2 separate regions of the Homo sapiens genome follow, and region 2 is linked to region 1. Evidence: fine-mapped expression QTL. Tissue or cell type: unexposed skin. Region 1 holds a variant in brackets; the other region holds the start of a gene. All regions are shown on one strand. Distances are between the middles of the regions.

The links. PIP is the estimated chance that this variant, and not a neighbour inherited with it, causes the effect.
Region 2: NACAD starts here. The variant in region 1 is fine-mapped to the expression of NACAD in unexposed skin (GTEx, PIP 0.91).

What each region holds. Positions count from the first base shown.
Region 1 is chr7:44,810,818-44,813,497 of GRCh38, reverse strand. No RefSeq gene overlaps it. Among named protein-coding and RNA genes, the nearest start is that of PPIA, 15 kb to the right of the region's middle. The variant A/G (reference allele first, on the strand shown) is at 1,352.
Region 2 is chr7:45,087,737-45,090,416 of GRCh38, reverse strand. It overlaps NACAD (NAC alpha domain containing), which reads left to right and starts at 1,448. Exons shown (of 8, transcript NM_001146334.2): 1 at 1,448-1,589. The coding sequence starts at 1,523.

The DNA of each region.
Region 1 (2,680 bases):
ATTTATTTATTTATTTTGAGATGGAGTTTCGCTCTTGTTGCCTAGGCTGGAGTGCAATGGCGCGATCTTGGCTCACTGCAACCTCCACCTCCCAGGTTCAAGTGATTCTCCTGCCTCAGCCTCCCGAGTAGCTGGGATTACAGGCATGTGCCACCATGCCCGGCTAATTTTATATTTTTAGTAGATACGGGGTTTCTCCATGTTGGTCAGGCTGGTGGTCTCAAACTCCCAACCTCAGGTGATCCGCCTGCCATGGCCTCCCAAAGTGCTGGGATTACAGGCGTGAAGCACTGCGCCCTGCCGTATTTTTTTTGAGACAGTCTTGCTCTGTTGTCCAGGCTGGAGTGCAGTGGTGCAATCATGGCTCACTGCAGCCATGACCTCCTGGGCTCAACCAATCCTCCTGCCTCAGCTTCCTGAGTAGCTAGGACTACAGGCATAAGCCATCATATCCTCCTCTTTCATTTAAAGTAATCCTGTCATTAAAGCAGATTTACTTTTCACCACTGACATTACTATCCTGGCCCAAGCCCCTTTCCTCACTCCTGGATGATGCAGTAGTCTCCAGATTTCACTCCGCCACATAGTCTATCCTCAACAGACTTCAGTCAAAGTGACCTTTTTAAGAATGGTGGCTTAGGCCGGGCGCGGTGGCTGATGTCTGTAATCCCAGCACTTTGGGAGGCTGAAGTTGGCAGATCACCTGAGGTCAGGAGTTCAAGACCAGCCTGGCCAACATGGCGAAACCCCGTCTCTACTAAAAAATACAAAAAATTAGCCGGGCGTGGTGGTGGGCGCCTGTAATCCCAGCTAGTTGGGAGACTGAGGCAGTAGAATTGCTTGAACCTGGGAGGTGGAAGCTGCAGTGAGCCGAGATCACGCCACTGTACTCCAGAGTGGGTGACACAGCAAGACTCCGTCTCGGGGGGGAAAAAAAAGGTAGCTCTGTTGGGCACAGTGGCTCATACCTGTAATCCCAGCACTTTGGGAGGCCGAGTCAGGTGAATCACCTGAGGTCAGGAGTTCAAGACCAGCTTGGCCAACATGCCAAAACCCTGTCTCCAATAAATATACAAAAATTAGCTGGGTGTGGTGGCGCTCGCCTGTAATCCCAGCTACTCGGGAGGCTAAGGTAGGAGAATCACTTGAACCCGGGAGGTGGAGGCTGCAGTGAGCCGAGATTGCGCCACTACACTCTAGCCTGGATGACAGAGTGAGACTCTGTCTCAAAAAAAAAAAAAAAAAAAAAAAAAGAAGAAGAACGGTGGCTCATGCCTGTAGTCCTAGCACTTTGGGAGACCAAGGCAGGCGGATTGCTTCAGCCCAGGAGTCTGAGACCAGCCTGGGCAAC[A/G]TGGTGAAAGCTTGTCTCTACAAAAAATTTTAAAAGAATTTTTTGGCCAGGAGTGGTGGGTCACACCTGTAATCCCAGCACTTTGGGAGGCTAAGGCAGGCGGATCACTTACGGTCAGGACTTTGAGACCAGCCTGGCCCACATGGTGAAACCCTGCCTCTACTAAAAATACAAAAACTAGTCGGGCGTGGTGGTTCACTCCTATAGTCCCAGCTACTTAGGAGGCTTGAGACACAACAATCGCTTGAACCTGGGAAGCGGAGGTTGCAGTGAGCTGAGATAACACCAGTGCACTCCAGCCTGGACAACCAAGCAAGACTCTGTCTCAAAAAAATTTTTTTTTAATATTAGCCAGGTGTGGTGGGTGGCACATGCCTGTAGTTCCAGCTACCAGGAGGCTGAGATAGGAGAATCGCCTGAGGCCAGGAGGTCGAGGCTGCAGTGAGCTGAGATCAGTTCATTCCAGCCTTGGCAACAGAGCAAGACCCTATCTAAAAAAAAAAAAAAAGTTAGGCAAATGCTGTCACTCCTCTGCTCAAACTTCTATAGATATATGGATCCTATTTGGATGTAAATTCAAATAAGGCAACTGGGAAAACAATTATTTAATATATTGAATAAAAATACATAAGTCCATAGTGACAGGAGGAGGGAGGGATCAGAAGGGTACTTTACAACTGCAAAAGGGAATAATTGATTCAGACAAATATAATTAATGCCAAAACACAACAATCAGGTGAAAAGGCTCTCTTCTTGGAAAGAGGGTCTTTATGCAGAGGCAAAATATCACCCCTCAAGATTACCTAATTTTCAGAAAAGGGAAAAGATACCTTTCCAGTGGAGCAGTCTGGCAGGCATTACCTTAACTGCAAGTTCAAATTTAGCCTCACTGATGAGTCAGCCTGAGACTTTGTGCCTCCTGATGTGAGGCAAGATTAAGTACACAAAGTATCACCTATGAAATCTTCCTGCTAAATATGATGAATTTGAATCCAATTAAGCTTCTAGGCCTAGTGTAATTTCCAATTTACAGAAAATACAGGAGCTAAAAGAGAAAAACAGGAAACAATTAGCTCCAGAATAATGGACATTCCACAAAGTCAATGTCCTGAACTCTTTGTTTTATTTGTTTCTTTATTTTATTTATTTATTTATTTTTGAGATGGAGTTTTACTCTTGTCGCCCAGCCTAAAGTGCAATGGCACGATCTCAGCTCACTGCAACCTCCACCTCCCAGGTTCAAGCAATTCTCCTGTCTCAGCCTCCTGAGTAGCTGGGATTACAGGCATGTGCCACCACGCCCGGCTAATTTTTTATTTTTTAGTAGAG
Region 2 (2,680 bases), 280 kb before region 1:
CACTGCAACCTCCGCTTCCCGGGTTAACGCCATTCTCCTGCCTCAGCCTCCTGAGTAGCTGGGACTACAGGAGCCCGCTACCACTCCCGGCTCATTTTCTGTATTTTTAGTAGAGACGGGGTTTCACCACGTTAGCCAGAATGGCCTCGATCTCCTGACCTCGTGATCCGCCAGCCTCGGCCTCCCAAAGTGCTGGGATTACAGGCGTGAGCCTCCGCGCCTGGCGACACATTGTTAGTTTTGACATCAGGATATTTCTTGCCTTATAAAATGAGTTAGGAAGTGTCCCCTTCTCTTTTGTTTTCTGGAAGAGATTGTTTGAAGTTGATGTTAATTCTAATGGTGTGGTGTGTCTGACTCCTGGGGTACAGCGGGGAGAGATGCCCAGCAGGCAGCCAGGTGTGTAGCACTGAGCCTTGAGGCAGGTCTGGGGGAGTCAGAGGGCAGCCCCTGGCTTCATGAGCTCAAAGTTAGAACCCACAGAAGACTGAGGATGTTGAAACCTCCCTCCCTGCCTGTGACAATGGCTACTCTGATTCCCCCCACCCCAGTCAGGGGTGATGACAATGTCTCATTCATCTGTCTCCCTGGTGCCTGGCACGGGGGAGGAGGGGTGCTCAGTGAATCTGGGTGGCGCAGTAGCCTGTGTGAAAGCAAGAGGCATTTCAGGAAATTCACGGGGCGGGCTTCCTCCTGGGAGGTGTGGCAGAGGGTGCTGCCAGGAATAGAGGGAAACACTTTCTTCCTTTTCCTTCTACTGCCTAGTGTGGGGGTGGAGGGGAGATGATAGGACAGATCACCGAGTTGCCTAGAGACCTGGAGACCGACCCATCCGGGTCGCCTTCCCTGGTGCGCTCTCGTCGGCTCCATCCCTGGTTGCCATGGAGACAGGAGGCGGTTGCCACGGAGACCGACGACTGCCAGGACCAGCCAATCACTCCAGAGCTGCAGCTCCAGCTCACCTTTTGCATGGAGGCATCGGGCTGGGCGGGGCCCCCTCCCTCCCCAGGCCCTGCACCCTCTGCTTGGTCAGCGGGGAAGGAGGCTGCGCCGCCAACTCCACCCAAAGCGCTCCGAGCATCCCAGAATCCCAACCACCTCCCCAGCCTCCCACAACCAGGGTTCTAGGGGCGTCCCCGCCTCTTCCTGGCCACGGGCGAATGCCACCCTGAGGCAACCCAGCTTCCAATTGGCCCTGAAACCCTCCCTCGTAAATGCTGTGGAAAGGGTGGGACCGGGCGCAGGCGCCCACCCCCGCTCCCCCACGAAACCGCCCACAGCGAGAGGGAGGCCACAGCCGGGTGGGGTGGGGGCGGGGAGGGAGCCCCCCCTACGCCCTCCGCAGTGCCTGGCGAGCCCGCGCACGCTCACTCGCTGGGACAGGCGGGCGGGGCGGCCTGACGTCACCCACTGCCCCCACCGCCCGGCCGAGGGGCGGTGGCCGCGCAGGCTCGGCGGGGCGGCGGCACGGACTGACGGAGGGTCGGAAGGACTGAGGGACGGGCGGGCGCACGGCCAGGCCATGCCTGGGGAGGCTGCCCGCGCCGAGCTGCTGCTGCCCGAGGCGGACCGACCCGGGCCCCGCACAGGTGAGGCCGTGGCCACTCTTTCCCTGCCTTCAGCCTCTCCCCTCTCCAGCCCGGGTTCTCTTTCCATCGCTCACCTTTCACCCCTCTCCCCCATCCCCCTGGCCCCCCTCGAGTCCCCTCCCCTTTCCGCGCCCTGTCCTTCCCTCCATCTGAACCCTGCTACCGCCTCTCTCAGAACTGCGGGGAAGGTGGGGCGCACGAAGTGCCCGCCGCGAGCCAGAAAGAACGTGGGGGCTTAAGCCCTTGGCTTCCGACCCAGGGATCGTGGGGCTCGCATCCCGCCCGCTGCATCCCGTTGTTTGCACCGAGCTGCCAGCCTGCTGGGGCTGGGCCGCTCTGGACAGAGGCAGCGGGTTCTGGAGGCGGGGTGTCCGGCTGATACCCCCAGTACGATCAGGTGACCACCGGGAGGGTCCTCAGTTGCACCCGGTCTGTCCTGGGCCGGCGACTGGTCATGGCTCTGGAGGGAGGAGCAGGACTGGCCAGAGCCTAGGAAGCCCGGATGGAGGGCCAGGTGGTGGAATAAAGCCTAAGTTGGGTCTGGAAGGTGGAAGGCCTTGGGGGAGGTGGCCTGATTAGCAATGGCCCTGGGTGTGCAGACCACCTGTCCTTAGGCTGGGTCAACAAATGCTGGTGGAGGCTGATGGGGTCTACGGGGCCTAGAAAGAGCCGAGCCTGGACAGTCCTGGCGTGGAGGTCAGCCATGTGTGGGTAGGGCCAAGGGCACCTTGCTGTGGGCAAGAAGTCACCCAGAGATGGGACCACTGCTGGGGCCTGGGGCCTGGTTTGGGGTGACACAGGCTGCTGCCTCTGCTCTAGGTGGGAGGCAGGGAGTGCAGGCCCAGACTTCCCAGCCCCAGGGTCTTGTGCTGGCTCTGTTCTGGCTTGCTTGGTGACCTTGAATGAGTTATAAAAACCTTTGGCCTTTGGTTTCTGCTCCATCCCAACAGCTCAGCCGTTCCCCTGCCCTGGGGGCCACACCAGGGGCCAGAACCAAGAGCCCAGCTTCAGGGCACCCAGTGATGCCCCACCAGCCACGCCCACTCCTGATGTTGGGTGTCAGGCATGCAAGAACCCAAAGGACCCCCTTG